Regions from separate parts of the Homo sapiens genome. Here all the other regions are linked to region 1. Evidence: fine-mapped expression QTL. A gene starts in region 1. Each other region holds a variant in brackets. All regions are shown on one strand. Distances are from middle to middle. Region 1 holds the start of PIGZ (phosphatidylinositol glycan anchor biosynthesis class Z (Gwada blood group)). Region 2 holds the start of NCBP2AS2 (NCBP2 antisense 2 (head to head)). Region 3 overlaps SENP5 (SUMO specific peptidase 5).

Region 1 (9,299 bases):
ACAGGCGACTGCCACCAGGCCGGCTAATTTTTTGCATTTTTAGTAGAGACGAGGTTTCACCATGTTAGCCAGGATGGTCTCGATCTCCTGACCTCGTGATCCGCCCACCTCGGCCTCCCAAAGTGCTGGGATTACAGGCATGAGCCACCGTGCCCGGCCTAGCACTACCATTTTTTTTTAATTTTTTTGAGATGGAGTCTTGCTTGTCGCCTAGGCTAGGTGCAGTGGCACGATCTTGGCTCACTGCAACCTTTGTCTCCCAGGTTCAAGCGATTCTTCTGCCTCAGCCTCCTAAGTAGCTGGGACTACAGGCACGCATCACCACGCCTGGCTAATTTTTGTATTTTTAGTAGAGATGGGGTTTCACCATCTTGGCCAGGCTGGTCTCAAACTCCTACCTCATGACCCACCTGCCTCGGCCTCCCAAAGTGCTGGGATTACAGGCGTGTGCCACCGTGCCCAGTCTAGCACTGCCATTTATTAGATACATATTACCTTCCAGGCTTTGTACCTTATCTTATTTAATTATGGGAAGTCTATAACCCTATCCTTTTTTTTGTTTTTTAAGACAGGGTCTCACTCTGTCACCCAGGCTGGAGCGCAGTGGCATGATCTCAGCTCATTGCAACCTCTGCCTCCCAGGCTCTAGCAATCCTCCCACCTCAGCCTCTATGAACCTATTCTTATCCCTGTCTTACACACAAATGAACAGGCTTTTTGCAAAAGGTAACGGAACTACTAAGTTGGTGGAGCTGGAAGATGGACCCGGTCTGTTTGACTCCACTGCCCTGCTCCACTGCCCGTTAGGCTTCTGTACCTGCTTCAAACACAGGGCAGCCCAAAAGAACTCATCACCTTCCCTGGAATGAGCCCTGTCCCCATGCTCCCTACAGCAATGAGGAAACTACCATGTATTAGTGTCCCACACTCCTGGTACCAATTTACTGTGTTAATCTATTCTCACACTGCTATAAAGAACTGCCCAAGACTGGGCAATTTCTAAATAAAAGAGGTTTCATTGACTCACAGTTCTACATTGCTGGGGAAGTTTCAGGAAACTTACAGTCATAGCGGAAGGGGAAGCAGGCACCTCTTCACAAGGTGGCAAGAGAGAGTGTGAGTGGAGGAAATGACGGACGCTTATGGAACCATCAGATCTCATGAGAACTCCCTAACTATCCGAAGAACAGCGTGGGGGAAACCACCCCATGATCCGATCCTCTCCCACCGGGTCTTTCCCTCAACACTTGGGGATTACAATTCAAGATGAGATTGGGGCGGGGACACAAAAGCCTAACCATGTCATACCATTTGCCCAATTTAGTCCAGAATCCCACGGGCTATCTCCCTCCTCCTTTGTCCCTGCACTACGTAATGCCAACGTTGCTTGCTAATTATTCCTTGAACCCAGCTCTTGTTCCTCATTCTCCACTGTCATTGTCTGAGTCCAGGTATGCTGTGACTGGTGTGCATGTACCTGGGATTTCTTAGCCTTAGGGGTGGCTGGCTGTGCAGAATCTTTGGATGGCTGGAGGCCCTGGGTTGGTTGTTTCTGTTTGCAAACAGCCCCCTCCTTTGTTAACCAGTGTGTCATATAACAGCAATCATTTTCTGTGGATGAATAATGAGGGAGATGGTAAGAAGCATGACCTGGAGTAGACTGCACCGCCATCCGCCTCTCCACTTTCCCTCTCTCACTGCATCCTTCCTTCTGACTGCGGCAGAGACAGGCCGAATCACTCCCCTGTGAGAAACCTCTGGATGGGGGGCCATCCCCTCACCACCCTGAGGACCAGGTCCACATTCCTTACTGTGGCTGACAAGGCCCTCCATAGCTTCCAGTGTCCCCTTCCCGCCTCCACTCCTGTGTTCGTGAGTAGAATTCGGTGCTCCAGAAACATCACGCCTTTCTGCAGCCCTCTCCTCTATTCCGTGCTGTTTCTCACCCCAGCTTCTTGGCTCACACGGTTTCACTTACCCAATACGCTAATAACATGGAGGTTAAGACCAGCGGTGGCATCAGGTAACCCGGTTCAAGTCGTTGCTCTCTGTCACTTGTTCATGGTGAAAGCACTCAATCTCTCTGAACCCCAATTTATACCTCAGCTTTAAAACAAGTACCTATCTCAGGGCTGTTGTGAAGATGAAATGAAGAAAATATGCAGACATAAGTGGTTGCTTTCTTTATCCATCTTGCTTAACTGCCCTAACCCCCAAGAAGTCTTCCCTAACCCTCCTTCTGAAGGACCCTGTGCAAAACTCTGCAGGCGCCATGCGCTGACTGTTGTCTGATTATTTCTCTGCCCTGCTTGGCTGAGGTCTCCCAGGCATGGAGTCCCTTTGAGATTCATCTCCAGCCTGGGTGGGCCCACTGGGGCCCATCTGTCAAGGACAGAGCAGGAGGTCCTCCGGAGAAGGTGACAACGTAGTGGGGCATCGACCATAACAAATGCGGGAGCTCCAGGGAACGACCCCCGCCCGCTGGCGTCTCTCCAGTCTGAGACCCCACTGGAGGAGCTGTCCATGTGGCTGCCTCTCGCCTTTTATCCCAGGGGACAGAGCCAACGCCAAGCATGGCAACCACCCACCTTAACCTAATCAGGATGCAGCCTGCTCATTAATTCATTCATTCATTCAGAGGGATCTGTCCGGGTGCGGGTCCAGCACGGGTCCAAATCCTGCATCTCCAGTAGCCTCCTGGGGGTCGGTCGTCGGGAGGGCTCGTGAGCGGAAGGCTTTAGGATGAAGCGACAGGGCCCAGAGTCGTGGAGATTGGACTGGGGGGCAGGGGAGCAGGCATTGACAACCACGCCGACAGGGGCATCCCGCGCGCCTGTGTGGGAGAATGTGTAGGGCAAGCAGCAGGGAGAGACCATCTCAGAGACAGGGGAACAGCCAAGCAGAAACCACTGTGCTGGGCGCGGGGGGAGGCCGGGAAAGACAGCACATCTGCGGGGCGGGAGGAGGGGAGGGAAGGGAGTAGAAACACTGCTCCCGCCAGCCGCGGGTGATGGGGACACGTGTCCAGCTCGCTGAGTCCGAGGGCCTGGGCCCGCTTTGGGTGCCCTGTTTCTCCGGCGCCCAGGTGTGTGCGCAGAACCGTGTCTGCTCCAGGGACAGCCGTGAACGAGCGCCGTCCGGAGTGGCAGGGCCATCAGGTGTGGCTCATTCCAAGAAAGGTCCGTACCTTCACATGTAAACTTCCTGGCAAAGCTGCTGGGTTGCCGCTTATGGGAGAAGGCGGCGGGCCCAAGGTTCGGCCCCTTTGTCTGAATCTGGCATTTGGAGCAGGCTTTAAGACTTCGGGAAAAGCCGGGCCCCTGTGCAACCACCAAAGGCTGCTTCTCCCGCCCTCAGGACTAAGATCTTGTTCCAGTCCTCCAGTCCTCGGGGTCTACTCCAGGGGTACAAGGTGAGAGTGGCTCTCCAGAGTCCATTTGCCTTTTGGTGCCGCACTGCATCCTCACTTTGACCCTGAGCGCTGCAGTAAGCCCTGCAGGGTGCTCCACCTTGAAGCACGGGAAGATCTGATGCTGGCCGCCTTCTTCCTTCGGTTGCCTGAAAGGGCCCGTGTTTATCCTTCGCTTCACAGAGAACGCAACACACAACATTAAACACACATAGAGAGTGAAAGAGAACAAGGCATCTTCATCAAGGAGGGCGCACCATTTAACCACCCGCGACCTTGCAGTGCGCCTCTGCAAAGTGGGGACTCCGCTCTGTAGCAGGAGATGGGGGTGTTGACGATTTTGAAAGTAGTTCTCAGTTTTCCGAGGCAAAGGTGTCTGGGGCTGACGAATGACTTTTGAGAAGAAGGAATGATGAGAAATGTCCTCATTACAGAACTTTCCCGGCCACACTGTGAGTCCCACGCAAAGACCCCATGACCACCAACCGGAGCGCTGGGTGCTCCCTGGCAGGGTCACCTTTGCTTTTTGCGCGCCCCCATGCCACCCCTGGGGCAGGAGGCCATCCTCTTATCCTGGGAGTGCAGGCCTGGCCCGAAGTGCAGCCCCCGAGGCCGGGAGCCGAGATTCTTCTCGGCTTCGTGCTCAGAGCTTTGCAGCGTGGCATGGTTTCCTCCTCTTGCCCTGTTGCTGTTTCATACCAGGGGGAACTGAGACCCAGTCGGGTTATGGGCCTCCCTGAGAACACTGGCCTCTAGCAGAAGCAGATTCAACCCCAGGCCTCAACCTGCGCCCAGACCCGTGCCCTGGAGTGGAGTTTACCCACTGCCGCCCTTCCTGGGCAAATGTCACCGCTGCCTCCGTCCCCCTAGGTCCGGGGCGGGTCAGTGCTTCGAGCCAGCGGACCCCGGCCTAGGGACAGGTGCCTGCGAGAATGCGGGGGGCGGCCCCCAGCTCCCCTGCCCTCCTCCCTAGAGGCTGGGCCTGCTGGTCTCCCGGCTGCGCGCAAGGTGGGAACGCGGCCGACTTGGTCCGCTCGCCCTCCCCGCACCCGCTCCTCTGGAGCCGCTGGGGCTGCGCACCGACTCACCCGCGCGGCCTCCGGGCTGCGCCTTCAGCGCTGGCGGCGTCCTGCCCGGCGAGGGCCAGGGTCCCAGGAGGCCCCGGAGGCGGCGGGACCGCAGGGCGGAGGGGAGGCCGTGGGAGCGGCCGGGCGCGCCTCAGCAGCGCGGAGACTGGGGCCGCCGCCGCCGGCGCAGGGCGGGCCGGGAGGGAGGAGGAGCGCGCGGGCGGGGCCGCCGTGTACGTCCCCGCGCTCCCGCCCGGCCTGGCCCCGCGGTCCCGGAGCGAGCTGGGGCCGCGCTGGGGAGGGTCCTGGGGGCGCCGCCGTCCCTCGGGCCGGGCAACGCCGGGCGGGGACCGGTCTCGCCCCGCCGCGCTCGGGCTCCCTCCCCGGCGGCCCCTCCTCGGCGAACAGCCTTTCGGCGCGGGGGGCTGTTAAACCAGACACCCCAGGCCACACTCCTCTCGTTCGAAATGACCATTTCGGGGTTCTCCGTGGCGGGGAGCTCCGCCGCCGCCGTCCCCCTTCCACGCGCGGGAGGTCGGCGAGGGCAGGGCGGGGACCCGGAGTGCGGCCCCCGGTCCTGCTTCGTGGCCCGAAACGCCTCGCAATGGAGTCACTCATGACAGGGGACTCAGCGCACGGGGCGGCTGCTGAGCCCCGCAGCGATCGGCGGGCGTGAGGGGTTCCCCGGCGTGGTTGCCCGGGAGCCTGTCAGCCCCAGCAGCCCTGACAGGAAAGGGAAGTCGAGAGGAGGCTGAGCGAACGGCCGCCACCCCCGCGGGACGCTGACCCGGGCGGACCCCGAGGGGCCTCTCCCCGCGCCAGAGCGCGGCGTGCGCGGGGAAGCGCGACCCACCGGGGTCGGCGACGGCGCGCGGGGCGGGCGCGGCGGTTCCCTCTCCTCCGCCCGTGCCCGTGGGATCGGCGGGCTTGTCGGGCTGGGAGAGCCTCGTGGAACCCGGGCATCCGGGCAGCAGCGGCCTCCGAGCCACTGTGGAGGCGCCCGGGGTCGGCACGGCGAGGCCGACGGGGACCTGACACGGTCACGCGGCGCCGGGGAGCAGGTTCGAGTGGCCGGGCGTGGCCGTGCTGCCCCTCCGCGTTCCGCAGGCGGCGACGGGCGAGCGGCCCTAGCGGGCTGCAGGGAGGACGCCGCGTGGACGGAGAGCCGGCGCCCGGGGGCCAGATCCCCTCCCGGGACGGGGCGCCAGGTCCCCGCGAGCTGCGGCGCGACGCGCGGGCACCCGTGTCCCACCCGGTGGCCTCGCCGCTGCGGGCTGCGCTGAGAGCGGGGTGGCGCGACGCGGTCCCTCACCGCAGGGGGAAGACGGCACCACCGCGTCCCGGCCGCTGGAGCTTCCCGCCCGCGCCGCCGGCCCGACGCTGCCCCCTGGCGGGAGAGCGCTGCAGGGGCCCCGGCGAGGCCGCAGGACCCGACCTCCCCGCCGGCCTCGCACTCCCGCGCCGCCGCCGAGGGTCGGCAGCCGGATCGCCCTCCGTGCCCCATAGCACCCCTCACACTAAAAACGACGACTTTATTAAGATGTGAGGTATTCTATACATACGATAAATACCAGGAAATTTAAGTACAGTACATGGAAGTATACAGTTCCATGAATTTTTTCCTTTATTTTTTAGATACAGGGTCTCTGTCGCCCAGGCTGGAGTGCGGTGGCACGATCTCGGCTCACCGCAGCCTTGAACTTCTAGGCTCCAGCGATCCTCCTGCCTCAGCCTCCCGAGCAGCTGGGACCACAGGCCCCGCCACCATGCCCGGCTCAGTTCCATGACTTCTGACACGCGAAACCACCAGGCTAGTCTCCCCCCGAGTTCAAGAAGTCCTCTCCTCCCAAAAGTACCCTCCTGCCCCTCTGCAGCTAACCCCTCACCTCCCCTCCGCCCTGGTTCCAGACAACTGCTCCTCTGATTTCTGTCACTGCCCTTTGCCTCTCTCGCAATTGCATGCAAGGAGAACCATTCACCGTGTGGTCTTTTGTGCCTGGCTTTCTTCGCTTGGCACCATGCAGCTGAGCGTCGCCCGTGTGGCGTGTGTGTGTTGTATTTTCCTCTACCTTGGTCTTGAGACCTCCCTGGAGAGCCACTGTAAAGGCCAACTCTGCCCTGACAGGGCTCCTGGGATTTGGGCGTGGGTGTTTGCCGTGGGCCTTTCATGGGGCACCTCTGTATCCTGGCTGACCTGTGACCGGGTGTCCCTCTCCCAGGAGACATATTTATCCTGGCAGATCTCCTTGTGCTTCTTGTCTGACCTGTATCTAGTTTATTCCTACCAAGATAGCTGCTCTCTAGGGAAAGCCCTGACCAGGGAAAACGTTACGTTTGAGCGTCTCAGTCAGGCATGACACAGAGCAGGCAACACAACGAAACACAGGAACTAACAGAAGTGGTCCTATTACTTACAGATCCACAGGGGAAGAGGGCACACTGAGGGCCGTCGGGAATGTCTTGGGGACACTGTACACAATCGTTGTGGGGGTGGGGGGAGCCAGAGAGAGACGGACCTGTGGGCTGAGGCTTTTATTGGAGTGCAGGGCATTACTCAAGCAGTTTTCCCAAGGGGAGCTCTAATTGGTTCACCTAGAGGAGCGAACTGGAGTCCTGTGGGGCCACCTTGTGACTTAGGGGTGGTCACTGAGACATATCTGCATAGTCCATGCAGGGTGTGGGCGTCAGTGGGGTGAGTCTAGTTGGTTGTATGTATACATCCCACAAGGAGGCAGTTACCAGGAGGTGGCTACCTAGGACCAGATATCTGGACGGAATGTGTTGAGATACTGTTTCCAGCAGAGAGCTGGAAACTGTATCCAAGGTGACTAAGCCCTGCTTCTAGTATGAAATTGTTAACCCTATATTCAAAATGGATACTGAAGCAACCTAAAATTTCAGGTATTTACTAAAGTGTGTATCAAGTTCCCTCCTTACCACTGGTGAGTAGTATTCCATTGTATGGATATGCCACAGGCTGTTTGTCCATTTGGACATTGATGGATGGACTAAAGTTGGCCAAGCTGGGCTGGTGGGGAGGCACCCTCTCAGGACCCCAAAGGAGGATGCGGGGTTGTTGTTGGATGTCTGGGTTGTTTCCAGTTTGAAGGCATTGTGAATAAAACTGACTTGAGCCTTCCTAGAAAGTTTTTTGAATATACATATGTTTCATTTCTCTCGGATAAAATGCCTGGAAGTAGGCGGGATGGCTTGGTTGCATGGTGAGTCTTTTTTTAAAAAAATTTATTTAATTAATTAATTAATTAATTTTTTTGAGACGGAGTCTTGCTCTGTAGCCTAGGCTGGAGCGCAGCGGCACCATCTCAGCTCACTGCAAGCTCCGCCTCCCGGGTTCAGGCCATTCTCCTGCCTCAGACTCCCATGTAGCTGGGACTACAGGCGCCTGCTACCAAGCCCGGCTATTTTTTTTGTATTTTTATCAGAGACAGGGTTTCACTGTGTTAGCCAGGATGGTCTCGATCTCCTGACCTCGTGATCCATCCGCCTCGGCCTCCCAAAGTGCTGCGATTACAGGCGTGAGCCACCACACCCAGACTTTTTTTTTTTTTTTTTTTTTTGGGATGGAGTCTCGCTCTGTCGCCCAGGCTGGAGTGCAGTGGTGCAATCTTGGCTCACTGCAACCTCCGTCTCCTGGGTTCAAGTGATTCTCCTGCCTCAGTCTCCTGAGTAGCTGGGATTACAGGCTTGCGCCACCACACCCAACTAATTTTTGTATTTTGGGAGAGATGGGGTTTCACCATGTTGGTCAGGCTGGTCTTGAACTCCTAACCTTGTGATCCATCCGCCTTGGCCTCCCAAAGTGCTGGGATTACAGGTTTGAGCCACTGCGCCTGGCAGCATGGTAAGAAATTGTTTTTCAAAGTGGTCATACTATTTGACATTACCACCAGCAATGCATGAGAGCCCATAGCATTCTATGGTTTGTCTTTTCATTTTCTTTTTTTCCATGAGACAGGGTCTCATGCTGTCTCCCAGGCTGCAGTGCAGTGGTATAATTGTAGCTAAATGCAATCTCGAACTCCTGGGCTCAAGTGATCCTCCCACCTCAGCCTTCTGAGTAGCTGGGATGATAGGCACACGCCACTATGCCTGGCTAATTATTTTTATTTCAATTTTTTATCTTTAGTAGAGATGAGATCTCGCTATGTTGCCCAGGCTGGTCTTGAACTCCTGGGCTCAAGTGATCCTACTGCCTCAGCTTCCCAAAATGCTGGGAATACAGGTGTGAGCCACCACACCCACCTGTTTTTTCATTTTCCTAATGTTATCTTTCAAAGAGCCAAAGTTTCTAATTGTGACAGCGTCCAATTTATTAAACATTTTCCTTGATTGCCTACCTTAAGGTAAGGTTGCAAATATTTTCTCCTATATTTTCTTCTAGAATTGTATAGTTTTGGCTTTTTGTTTAGGTCTATGATACACTCAAACTAACTTTATGGGTGGTGTGAGGTAAGAATCAAGGGTCTTATTTATTTATTTATTTATTTATTTATTTAAGATGGAGTCTCATTGTCTCCCTCTCCCTCGCCCTCGCCCTCGCCCTCGCCCTCGCCCTCTCCCTCTCCCCACGGTCTCCCTCTGATGCCGAGCTGAAGCTGGACGGTACTGCTGCCTGATTCTCCTGCCTCAGCCTGCCGAGTGCCTGCGATTGCAGGTGCGCGCCGCCACGCCTGACTGGTTTTCGTATTTTTTTGGTGGAGACGGGGTTTCGCTGTGTTGGCCGGGCTGGTCTCCAGCCCCTAACCGCGAGTGATCCGCCAGCCTCGGCCTCCCGAGGTGCCGGGATTGCAGACGGAGTCTCG
Region 2 (7,675 bases), 24 kb before region 1:
TGCTAGAAATTCCACATGACAGTATGGCATTAGCATCTAAAAAAAGCTACAGGTTTAGACTGAGGAGATGAATAATAGACAAAGTCAGAAGGTTCCAGTTTTCATCTCACAGGATGCTTTAAGTTCAAAATGGTCAGGATGTGGAACTGTCTAAAGTAGTAACTAAAAGTGGTAGAAGTGCAAATCATGCCTGGCACTTAGGCATCCCAGCACTTTGGGAAGCCCCAGGCAGGTGGATCGCTTGAGTCCCAGAGTTCGAGACTGGCCTGAGCAACACAGGGAGACCCTGTCTCTACAAAAAATTAGCTGGATGTGGTGGCGCGAGCCTGTGGTCCCAGCTTCTCAGGAGGCTGAGGTGGGTAGGATCACTTAGGCTCAGGAGGTTGAGGCTGCGTGAGCCGTGATTGCGCCACTGCACTTCAGCCTAGGCAATAAAGCGAGACTCTGTCTCAAAAAATAAAATACATTAACTGAATAAATTTTTTTTTTTTGAGAAGGAATATCGCTCTGTTGCCCAGGCTGGAGTGCAGTGGCGCGATCTCACAGCAACCTCCACCTCCCCGGTTCAAGCGATTCTCCTGCCTCAGCCTCCCGAATAGCTGGGATTACAAGCGCCTGCCACCACGCCCGCCTAATTTTTGTATTTTTAGTAAGACGGGGTTTCACCATCTTGGCCAGGCTAGTCTTGAACTCCTAACCTCGTGATCCACCCGCCTCAGCCTCCCAAAGTGCTGGGATTACAGGCGTGAGCCACCGTTCCCAGCCTTGACTAAATAAATCTAAGAGCTTCCCTAATTTAGCGTCAAACAAAATTTCCCTTTCCCTACTCTAGTAACACATTTCACACATTCTCCACACTTACCCTCTGCTATATGCGCCCCTTCCTTTCCCAGTCACAAGGGGATTTTTCCCTTTTCTGAATCCTCACTACAGGGGATTATGAGCTCGCAGAGCGCAGAAACTGTCTTCCCTCTCCCTCTAGGGTTTAGCACAAGGATTTGGCGACAGCACTCGATAAACGTTTACTAAATAATTGGGTTAATGAGTCCCGCCCCGCCAACCCCCAACCGTATTCCATCCCTACCTCCGCTGATACTGAAAAGTCTACTTTGAATATCTGCTGCCTCCCCTTTTTCCACAAAATATACTGTGATATAGTCCGGACTAAAAATTTCCCTCTTCTGAAATCCAGCAATTCTCCGATCTTTACATCCGAACACCCTCAAAGTGCCGAGCTTGGCGGGTCCACCTCCCCACTCCGAAGCTTCCCCGAGGGCGGAGTGAGGACTCCACTTGTGTCTCCCACGCACCGCGTACAGCTTCCGTAACACCATCCTCCCAGAGAAGGGGCCCGAATCGCCGAAGGGCACTGCTTCGCCGATTTAAAAAACAAAGCAAAAAGCCCCGCATCTGCATCAGGAAGGCGCCTCTGCCTACTCTGGGAGAGAGAAGGGCACCCCTCCCCCTTGCTACGTAGTCGTCTGCGGAGGCACAACCGTGGAAACGGGAGCCGCCACCACCACCACCGCTCAAACCTCTCGGCACTGGCTGGGGTACAGGGAGCGGCTGCGAGCGAATGGGATAAGCGAGCCTCCAGTTCCCCGTCTTCCAGAGCAAGTGGCTTCAGTGATATCCAAGCGCCCTTCCAGCACCCATTCCCTGCCTCGCCAGCAGGCACCGGGGCCCCACTTGGCGTTTGCGGATTTCAGCTGAATGGGAGGCGACACAATGAGACAAGAGCAAACCGTTTCTCAGCGTTCTTGCCCAGGGCCTTCCCGTCTCGCGGCCCGGCCTCCCTCACCCGGAAGTGCTGGTCCCGGTACTGGCTCAGCTCCACGTAGGAGTCGCTGCGCAGCGCCTTCAGGAGGCCACCCGACATAGTGCAGAGAAGCGGACCACAATGCGGCGACTCCCGGCACGAGGCTGCGTCCGCGATGGCGGAAGCGGAAACGCGCGGAGGCGAGCATCTCATTGGACCCAATCCGAGGGCGGCGTGTCGTCATCAAGCTGCGCGGGGGCATAGACGTCCGGGTCGGGCGCCGCGGGGCGGAAGACGAGGGCGGCGAGGTCGGGTTCCGGGCGCTTGGAGAAGATGGTGCTGCGGCGGCTGCTGGCCGCCCTGCTGCACAGCCCGCAGCTGGTGGAACGTCTGTCAGAGTCGCGGCCTATCCGACGTGCGGCGCAGCTCACGGCCTTCGCACTGCTGCAGGCCCAGCTGCGGGGCCAGGACGCGGCCCGCCGCCTGCAGGACCTCGCGGCTGGGCCCGTGGGCTCCCTGTGCCGCCGCGCTGAGCGATTTAGAGACGCCTTCACCCAGGAGCTACGCCGCGGCCTCCGAGGCCGCTCGGGGCCACCACCAGGTAGCCAGAGGGGCCCTGGCGCAAACATTTAATCCTGGGCTGTGCGGGGCCGAGGCCGCTTGCTTTTCCTTCCGGGCTCTACAGTGGCATCAATGTGGAGGGGTCATTCCGGGCACTGCGCGCGGCTTCGAATCCCGACTGGGATTGTTGGCCTGCAGACATCCCACGCATAAGAGCCTAGGCCAGACCGCCCGCTCCGTTGAAGTCTTGTGATTGGACAAGACACAGTGTGGAGACAGCCCTAAGCCTAACAGAGATGAAGGTAGGCTGGGTCCAGACACGGCACCTACGGAGAGCCACGGACCGAAGCCAGAGAGCCTTTCCTCTGCAAGTGGGACTGAAACTCTTGACAGATGCTGCTCAATCTGACTGGTATAGCAGGACAGTTAATTCCAGGGACGATATGGATGAAAAGACAACCCTACAGCTGCCAAATTCCTTTGATTAAATGTGTGAGCTGGTTGATAGGCATGAGTGTGATACTTCTCAGGCAAGATGTGTTAAGAATACCGGGGACTGTAGGCCTATGGTAATAATAAACACGTATTTTATGAAATGAGTCTTCTGTGCTGGGACTTGCTCATTGCACTCTATGTGTTATCTCACTCCTTACAACGACATTCACATGAGGAAGCAGATTACTTTTTGGATTTTTTTGTAGAGATGGGGTGGTCTCGAACTCTTGGGCGCAAGTGATCCTCCCGCCTCAGCCTCCCAAAGTGCTGGGATTATAGGCAAGAGCCACTGCGATGGAAACAGAGGCTGCTGCTTAAGTTGCCCAAAGTCTTGCAGAGTGGGATGTGAGCAGAGGCATTTGACTCCAGGGCCTAAGTCCTTAACACAGCTCTGCAGCATTTACCCTGATACTCAACCCCTTCCTTCCCCAACCCCCCACCATCAGGCATTAAGACTACTGCCTAGGGGCAGGGCCTGGTGGCAGTTGTGTCTTATCCCAGCCACTGCAGAGGCAGGAGGATCGCATGAGCCTGAGATGAGACCAGCCTGGGTAGCATAGCGAGAACCTTTCTCAAAAAAAAAAAAAAAAAAAAAAAAGACTACTGCCTGCCATGGAACAAGTTACCTGGACTCCTATCCTGTGGGGAAAAGAGAGATCAGATTGTTACTGTGTCTGTGTAGAAAGAAGTAGACATAGGAGACTCCATTTTGTTCTGTACTGAGAAAAATTCTTCTGCCTTGAGATGCTGTTAATCTGTAACCCCACCCCCAACCCCCTGCTCTCTGAAACATGTGCTGTGTCCACTCAGGGTTAAATGGATTAAGGGCGGTGCAAGATGTGCTTTGTTAAACAGATGCTTGAAGGCAGCATGCTCGTTAAGAGTCATCACCACTCCCTAATCTCAAGTACCGAGGGACACAAACACTGCGGAAGCCCACAGGGACCTCTGCCTAGGAAAGCCAGGTATTGTCCAAGGTTTCTCCCCATGTGATAGTCTGAAATATGGCCTCGTGGGAAGGGAAAGACCTGACCGTCCCTCACAGCGTGACACCCGTAAAGGGTCTGTGCTGAGAAGGATTAGTGAAAGAAGAAGGAACGCCTCTTTGCCGTTGAAACAAGAGGAAGGCATCTGTCTCCTGCCCGTCCCTGGGCAATGGTGTAAAACCCGATTGTATGTTCCATCTACTGAGTTAGGGGAAAACCGCCTTAGGGCTGGAGGTGGGACATGGGGGCAGCAATACTGCTCTGTAAGGCATTGAGATGTTTATGTGTATGCATATCTAAAGCACAGCACTTAGTTCTTTACCTTGTCTATGACACAGAGACCTTTGTTCACGTGTTTATCTGCTGACCTTCTCTCCACTATTATCTTATGACCCTGACACATCCCCCTCTCCGAGAAACACCCAAGAATGATGAATAAATACTAAGGGAACTCAGAGGCCGGCGGGATCCTCGTCTGCTGAATGCCGGCCCCCTGGGCTCCCTTTTTTCTTTCTCTATACTTTGTGTCTCTTTCTTTTCCAAGTCTCTCCTTCCACCTAACGAGAAACACCCACAGGTGTGGAGGGGCAACCCACCCCTTCACTACCCCTCATTTTAGAGGGTCAGGGATACAGACAGACTACGATCCAGCCAGTTAGCAGACCTGCGATTAGGAAATCCATTGTATATAGAAATGTCCTGTCATTTGAAGCTCCTAGCTAAATTTCTGATTTTTTTTTTGAGACAGGACCTAACTCTTGCCCAGGCTGGAGTGCAGTGGCACAATACTAGCTGTCACTGCAACCTCGACCCGTTGGGCCAAGCGATCTTCCTCCCTGGGACTCCCAAGTAGCTGGGATTACGGGCCCATGACACTATGCCCAGCTAATTAAAAACTTTTTTTCTGTTTTTTTT[G/T]TTTTTTTGAGACGGAGCCTTACTCTGTCACCAGGCTGGAGTGCAGTGGTGCGATCTCGGCTCACTGCAACCTCCACCTCCCGGGTTCAAGTGATTCCCCTGCCTCATCCTCCTGAGCAGCTGGGACTACAGGTGCGTGCCACCATGCCTGGCTAATTTTTTGTATTTTAGTAGAAACGGAGTTTCACCACGTTGGCCAGGATGGTCTCGATCTCCTGACCTTGTGATCTGCCCACCTCGGCCTCCCAAAGTGCTGGGGTTACAGGTGTGAGCCACCGCGCCCAGCCACAATTTTGTTTTGTTTTGTTTTTGGTTGAAATGGCATTGCACTTTGTTGCCCAGGCTGGTCTTGAACTCCTGGCCTCAAGCAGTTCTCCTGCTTCCGCCTCCCAAAGTGCTGGGATTACTGGTGTGAGCCACCACACCCAGCTCTGATCATTTCTAGTTAGGCAGCACAGTTAATCATGCAATCTAGAAAGCTTGAAGCCATCGGAAAAATTGAGGCTGGTAACCAGACACTAGCTGAGTGTTGTGTGTTCTCTGCCCTCTGGGGCAGGATGGGAGGGCTTGAGACCCACAGTTCTAAGGAGGAAGAACACCTGGCTCCCTAATCTGGGAAAATGACCCCCTTTTTTTTTTTTTCCCCCAAGACGGAGTCTTGCTCTGTCTCCCAGGCTGGAATGCAGTGGCTCTCGGTTCACTGCAACCTCTGCCTCCTGGGTTCAAGCAATTCTCCTGCCTCAGCCTCCTGAGTAGCTGGGATTACAGGTGCGTGCCACCACGCCTGGCTAATTTTTATATTTTTAGTAGAGATGGGGTTTCACCATGTTGGCCAGGCTGGTTTTGAACTCCTGACCTCGAGATCTGCCTACCTTGGCCTCTCAGTACTGAGATTACAGGTGTGAGCCACCATGCCCAGCCAGGAGAATGACTCTTAAGGACAAGGTGCAGAAATGGCTGGAGAGTTTCCCACCACCTCTCAGGAACAGGAGTAAAAGAAAGTAGGGAGAAAATCTCCAGTGCTATTATATATTTCAAACATTACTTGTTTGCATAATAACCAAACACTGAGACAGCAGGCATCAGAGTGCCATGAAGTACAACACAACTCCCACTTCCATGCTTGAAGAGCTTTGTGAGAGCTGTGCCTGTTGAGGCAGGGGACGTGTACTGTGGACTCCAGGAATGACACAATGTTAGCCGGCAGACACCTCAAAGTTCCTCTGATCCCAACAGACTGGGAAGTGGGGTGGGTGAGTGGAAGGAGCTTTCTCAAGATCACACAGCGAGGAGGTGACAGACCAAGGGGCCAGAAGTTGGGTCCCCTGGATCTGGGCCACCTGTTCTCTATACTTCGTCTCACTGACTTGCACATATTTCGATAGGCAGATGGGTCTTAGGAAGCCAGAGGGTTGTCATGACAGCAAGGGTAAGGCATCATGGGAGGTTTGGGAGAGGTCATTGAGGAATGTCACTAGCAGTTCATTGTCTTTTTTCACAACCAGGTACTATCACATATTTCAAACATCACAGTGGCTGGAAGCAACAGGGCAGGAACAGACAGGTGTCGTCACTTAACCTGGTCTTTGGGGACCTTGACATCAAGACCGACAGGTCAAATCTTTGGTCTCAGGGAGAAGAGTGCCAGCTCACCCAGAAGGCAGAACAGCTAACAGCCATGCCCAGGAGAGGCAGCAGTGGGAGTCATGAAGGAGGACGGGGTCCTGTCCCAGCGTCCCAGCCCAGCTACCCAAGTAGAAGGTGGGGCGGCATCTTCTATGGCTGAGTCTTGGGCAGTGGGTGCTCTGTCATATTGTCAGGTTTCTTCCCCCAGCTCCACAATGTGAAGACTGAGGTGGTCCCTCCAAGCCCCACTCAGCAAGGAGGACAGGGCTGGTGGATCCTCCAGGGTCAGATGGGGAAATAAAAGTGTTTCATTCTTGAAGGGGAAGCTGCACTTCTCCACGGCACGCCTGGTGGTGCCAGGGGTTACCACAAAGAGGCGGCAGAGCCATGGCCCACCAGCCACTTGGCAGGCTGGTTGTCTGGTGAAGCTTTTCAGGGTTTGGCACAGGGCCCAGTCCTCAGTCCCCCCCATGTCCACCACCTCCACTGGTGCCCCCAGGCCTGGGAGGTGTAGGAGGTGCCGGGGGGGCATGTAGGTGTGAGTGAAGAGGAGTGTGTAGTGGGTGGGTGTGCTTGGGAGCACAGGGGCATGGACCACCTGCTCCAGGTACTCCAGGCCAGGCACCAGGCCCCCCTGATGCAGGCAGCCGAAGAGGAGGGCACCGAGGGCGTTGAAGAGGACCACAGTGCCCTTCCAAGGCACAGGCTGCGTCTGTGGACTACAAAGCAGGACCAGGGGGACCAGGAGGGGAATCAGGAACCGAGCCTCCTGGTGGCTAAAGGCAGATAGCAGGGCCAGAGGCATGAAGTAGAGGAGAAGGAGATAGGACCTGGGGCTGGACAGCAGGCTCCGGGCACCCAGTGCCCTCAGGAGGCCCATTTGTGCAGAGGCCTGGAGGCCGACTTGCAGCCGTTGCCACGCAGCCTGCAGGGCCTGGGCATGCAGCACCCCGAAGAGCAGGAAGCCGTTGACTGCCAGGTGAGTGAGCCGCGCGTGCGTGCCATGTCTCGCCAGGTTTTGGGGATTCAGGTTGTAGTGCAAGAAGTTGACAGGTGTCAGGACAAGGTTCCTGGATGTAGCGGGGCTGGAGAAATACCAGCTGTCCGTGGCCACAAACACCGCTGCTGTGAGGGCTGCCCCAGGGAGCAGCACCAGGGCCTCCCGGGTCAGAGACTTCAAACCAGGGTTTGTGGCTCCACGAGTGCCCCAGAGGTAGAGGGGGACCACAGCAAAGGCCAGAAAGGTGGGCCGGTTGAAGAAGCCAGCAGCCACAATGCCTCCAAGAAGCCAGCTGCGCCACCGTGGACCCGGCGCCGGCTCCTTGCGTGTAGG
Region 3 (5,000 bases), 75 kb before region 1:
TGGATGGTTACTTCTTTTGGAGGGAAAAGGGATAGATTCCTGTGCCGCAAAACATTCCAGATGGATTAAAAGTTTGGCTAATTAAAACCAAATACACAGAAATGTGTACACGAATGCTTGTAACAGCATTGTTCATAATATCCAGAAAGTGAAAACAACCTAAATGTTCAACACCTGATGAATGGATAAATAAAATTTGGTATATCTATACAATGGAATATTATTCTATAAAAGGAATAAACACCGATATATACTTAAATGTGGATGCACCTTGGAAGCATGCTAAGTGAAAAGCCAGACACAAAAGGCCTTATAACATATGATTTCGTTCATTTGAAATGTCCAGAATAGGCAAATACATAGAGATATAAAGTAGATTAATAGTTGCCAGGAGCTGGGAAGAAGGGGAATGAGAGGTGACTGTTAATGGGTATAGAGTTTCTTTGTGGGGTAATGGAGGTGTTCTGGAATTAGGTAGTAGTGATAGTTACACAATCTGAATATATTAAAAAACAGTGAATTGTGTTCTTTAATGGGGCAAATTTTGTGGTGTGTGAATCACATCTCAATAAAGCTGTTAAAAAGAAACAAATATAGGCCGGCCATGGTGGCTCACATCTGTAATCCCAGCACTTTAGGAGGCTGAGGCAGAAGGATCGCTTGAGGGCAGGAGTTTGAGACCAGCCTGGGCAACATAGCGATATAAATACATAGAGGGATGTATATAGATTTAGCGAGACTCTATTGCTACAAAAAATAAAATTATCTGCATGTGGTGGTGCATGCCTGTAGTCCCAGCTCCTCAGATGGATGAGGTGGGAGGACTGCTTGAAGCCAGGAGTTTGAGGTTGAAGTGAGCTATGGTAGCTCGACTGCATTCCACGCTGGGTGACAGCAAGACCTTGTCTCTCTCTTTTTTTTGAGACGGAGTCTCACTCTTTCTCCCAGGCTGGAGTGCAGTGGCGTGATCTTTGCTTACTGCAACCTCTGCCTTCTGGGTTCAAGCGATTCTCCTGCCTCAGCCTCCGGAGTAGCTGGGACTATAGGCATGTGCCACCACGCCCGGCTAATTTTTTGTATTTTTAGTAGAGACGGGGTTTCACTGTGTTAGCCAGGATGGTCTCAATCTCCTGACCTCATGATCCACCTGCCTCAGCCTCCCAAAGTGCTGGGATTACAGGCGTGAGTCACCGCGCCCGGCCGACCTTGACTCTTAAAAAAAGAAAAAAAAAATACAGGAAATCATTCTTTTTAAGTTTTTGGTTTCTTTGTTTGTGACAGAGTCTCCCTCTGTCTCCCAGGCTAGAGTGCAGAGGCGTGATCTCAGCTCACTGCAAACTCCGCCTCCCGGGTTCAAGCGATTCTCGTGCCTCAGCCTCTGGAGTAGCCAGGACCACAGAGGTGCGCCACTATATGCCTGGCTAATTTTTTGTATTTTTAGTAGAGATGGGGTTTCACCATGTTGGCCAGGCTGGTCTTGAACTCCTCACCTCAAGTGATCCGCCCGGCTTAGCCTCCCAAAGTGCTGGGATTACAGGCATGAGCCACTGTGCCTGACCTAAAGATTATTTTTAATTGACAAAATTCTATATATTTATGGGGTACAATGTGATGTTTTGATATATGTTTACTTTGTGAAGTAAATCAAGATAATCAGCATATCCATCACTCACTTCGTCGTGAGAACATTTAAAATCAATTCTCATCTATTTTCAAGACACAGTACATTATTATTAACTATAGTCACCAGACTGTACAATAGATCTCTAGGACCACTTCCTCCTGTCTAACGGAAGCTTTATGACCCTTGACCAACATCTTCCAATTCTCTGCCCCACCCCCAGCCCCTGGTAACTACCGTTGATTCTCTACGTCTATGAGTTTGACTTTAGATTCCACATGTAAGTGAGATCATGCAGTATATTTTTTTGTGTCTGGCATATTTCACATATTATGCTCCAGATTCATCCATGTTGCAGATGACAGGATGTTTTAAGGCTGAATTGTATTCCATTGTGTATATATACTACATTTTCTTTCTCCATTCATCCACTCATGGGCATTGAGGTTGATGCCATGTCTTGGCTATTGTGGATAGTGCCGCAGTGAGTATGGGGTGCAGGTACCTCTTCAACACACTGATTTTATTGTCTTTGAAATACACTCAGAAATGGAATTGCTGGATCATATGGTAGTTCTATTTTTAATTTTTTGAGGAACCTGTATACTGTTTTCCTTCATGGCTGTGCTAATTCACATTCCCACCAACAGTGTACAGGGTTCCCCTTTCTCCACATTCAAGTCCTTTGCCTGCTTTTTAAATTGGGTTATGTTCTTGCTATTCGTTGTTTGAGCAGGAGACCATTTTTATAATCTTATATTGATAAGACATTTTTGCCCATAATAGGAAGCTCAGAAGCAATGAAAATATACCAAATTGACTCTACAGACATTTAAATCTTGTGTGCATGTGTGTGTGTATAGCAAAAGTTAGATGAAAATTTAAAAATTTAGATATGCATGCCCTTTTACCCAGAAATTTAACTTGTAGTAGGTGTGTCCAAGGGAAACAGTAGAACTAGGATAGATCAAGAGTTTTAATTGTTACATTATTTAGAGGTAAAAATAAATGGCCATCAGTAGGGAATTGGTTACAATACAGTATGCATTTTTTCAGGCAAAAGAGAACTGTCCATGATATAGTGAATGGAAAAAAGCAGCTTCAAGAAGAGTAAGTTTAGGCCGGGCGCGGTGGCTCATGCCTGTAATCCCAGCACTTTGGGAGGCCGAGGTGGGTGGATCACCTGAGGTCAGGAGTTCAAGACTAGCCTGACCAATATGGTGAAACTCCGTCTCTACTAAAAATACAAAAATTAGCCAGGCATGGTGGCATGCGCCTGTAGTCCCAGCTACTTGGGAGGCTGAGACAGGAGAATTGCTTGTACTTGTGAGTTGGAGGTTGCAGTGAGTTGAGATCGCACCACTGCACTCCAGCCTGGGTGACAGAGTGAGACTCTGTCT[C/CA]AAAAAAAAAAAAAAAAAATTTAGTGTGTTTAAGAAATACATGTTCAAAGGGCTTGAAAGTCCAGAAGGAATTATGGGCTCACTGCCATTTATTTAAAAATATTTATGGTCGTGTATGAGAAAAAATAACTACTTAAAAGGTTGTTTCCACATATAAAGTAAATGTTTATAAAAATGTCCAACTCTTTTTTTCTAGATATTAATGTGGTTTTTTTTTTTTTTTTTTTTTCTGGAGACAGAGTTTTGATCTTGTTGCCCAGGCTGGAGTGCAGTGGCGTGATCTCGGCTCACGGTGGCCTCCACTTCCTGGGTTCAAGCAATTTTCCTGCCTCAGCCTCCCGATTAGTTGGGATGACAGGTGCCCGCCACCACGCCCGGCTAATTTTGTATTTTTAGTAGAGACAGGGTTTCTCCATGTTGGTCAGGCTTGTCTCAAACTCCCAAACTCAGGTGATCCGCCCGCCTTATCCTCCCAAAGTGCTGGGATTACAAATGTGAGCTACTGCCCCCGGCCTAATGTGTTATTTTTAATTTAGTGCTTTGGAAAAAAGTTAAGGTAGATCCTTACCTCATTCTTTACACCAAAATGAATTCCAGCTGTTAATAAAATATTTAGTTGCGAGTTCTTTTTTTTTTTTTAAATTTATTCCCATGGGTCTGGGAACCAATGAAATTAGTTGGTAGTTCTAATACTGTTTATTGAGTGATTTGCTCTTTTCCCTGTGGTTCAGAAATGCAACCTACCACAGAGTCTCTTTGGATTTGATCTCTATTCCATGCTGGCTCTATTTGCCTTAATTAGCGTAGTTTTATCATTTGACAGGACCTGGCGCTCCTTATTCACCTCTCTCCTTTAATTCTTTTCAAAAATTTCTAGGAATTTCTCACATTTTTGTCCCAAGGTAAATTTTGGATTTATTTTGTAATCTTTTAAAAAAGTATGGTTTTTACTTGTTGTTGCATTATATTTATAGATTAATTTAGGGACAGTTGCTTTCATTGCAAAAGACTTCCTGTCCCTTAGTCATATTTCGCATCTTTTCACTTAGGTTTTGCGCATTGCTTATGTTTGTTCTTAGATACTGTATACCTTCCTTACTGCTGATGGGCCCGTTCTGAGGTATGCACTGTGTTTTGTTGGAGAACCATGTGCTTGCATTTCTTACGTGCACAGCACGGGGAACCTCATTCCACATCCAGGGTGGAATGTGACCCAGGTCAGTTGCATCAAACGAAAACTGTCCAGTGCCGTTAGTTTAACATGATGGCTACTTTTAACTTCTTTTTTTTTTTTTTTTTTTGAGACGGAGTCTTACTCTGTCACCCAGGCTGGAGTGCAGTGGCATAATCTCAGCTCGCTGCAAGCTCCGCCTCCCATGTTCACGCCATTCTCCTGCCTCCCGAGTAGCTGGGACTACAGGCGCCCGCCACCATGCCCGGCTAATTTTTTGTATTTTTTAGTAGAGACAGGGTTCCACCATGTTAGCCAGGATGGTCTCGATCTCCTGACCTCGTGATCCACCCGCTTCGGCTTCCCAAAGTGCTGGGATTACAGGCGTAAGCCACCGCGCCCGGCCTTACTTTAACTTCTTTTTTTTAAAAAGTTCTTTTTTATTTTTTCAGTTATTTTTGAGGCAGGGTCTCGTTCTGTTGCCCAAGTTGGAGTGCCGTGGTGGGATCTTGGCTCACTGCAGTCTTTGCCTCCCAGGCTCAACCCATCCTCCCACCTCACCCTCCCGAGTAGCTGGGACTACAGGCATGTGCCAACATGCTTGGCTAATTTTTGTATTTTTTGTAGAGAAGCGGTCTCACTTTGTTGCCCAGACTGGTCTTGAACTTCTGAGCTTAAGCAATCCTTCTGTCTCAGCCTCCCAAAGTGTTAGGATTACAGGCATGAGCCACCGTGCCTGGCCGGGTACTTTAAATTCTAAAATGACACCTCAGGTTTTGTTTTTTATATTACTACCTTTTGTACTTGC

The links. PIP is the estimated chance that this variant, and not a neighbour inherited with it, causes the effect.
Region 2: its variant is fine-mapped to the expression of PIGZ in whole blood (TOPMed, PIP above 0.99).
Region 3: its variant is fine-mapped to the expression of PIGZ in lymphoblastoid cells (TwinsUK, PIP 0.95).

Annotation. Positions count from the first base shown.
Region 1 is chr3:196,964,190-196,973,488 of GRCh38, forward strand. It overlaps PIGZ (phosphatidylinositol glycan anchor biosynthesis class Z (Gwada blood group)), which reads right to left and starts at 4,644. Exons shown (of 3, transcript NM_025163.4): 1 at 4,498-4,644. LOC124906255 (collagen alpha-1(I) chain-like) reads left to right here and starts at 4,944. Exons shown (of 3, transcript XM_047449439.1): 1 at 4,944-5,060; 2 at 5,207-6,023; 3 at 6,112-7,622. The coding sequence starts at 4,944. The coding sequence ends at 6,022. RefSeq lists enhancers at 4,221-4,756, 4,757-5,292, 5,293-5,828 and silencers at 4,364-4,813, 4,874-5,083, 5,094-5,153, 5,264-5,323, 5,434-5,753 and 1 more.
Region 2 is chr3:196,940,625-196,948,299 of GRCh38, forward strand. NCBP2AS2 (NCBP2 antisense 2 (head to head)) reads left to right here and starts at 2,050. Exons shown (of 1, transcript NM_001355243.2): 1 at 2,050-2,919. The coding sequence starts at 2,093. The coding sequence ends at 2,392. It overlaps PIGZ (phosphatidylinositol glycan anchor biosynthesis class Z (Gwada blood group)), which reads right to left. Exons shown (of 3, transcript NM_025163.4): 3 at 5,732-7,675. The coding sequence ends at 6,533. NCBP2 (nuclear cap binding protein subunit 2) reads right to left here and starts at 1,904. Exons shown (of 4, transcript NM_007362.5): 1 at 1,802-1,904. The coding sequence starts at 1,879. It overlaps NCBP2-AS1 (NCBP2 antisense RNA 1), which reads left to right. Exons shown (of 3, transcript NR_046630.1): 2 at 350-518; 3 at 1,769-1,910. RefSeq lists enhancers at 1,236-1,909, 1,368-1,607, 1,638-1,777, 3,258-3,931, 7,460-7,675 and 3 more. The variant G/T (reference allele first, on the strand shown) is at 4,717.
Region 3 is chr3:196,890,888-196,895,887 of GRCh38, forward strand. The region is part of intron 2 of SENP5 (SUMO specific peptidase 5); the gene reads left to right. Among named protein-coding and RNA genes, the nearest start is that of SENP5, 25 kb to the left of the region's middle. The variant C/CA (reference allele first, on the strand shown) is at 3,022.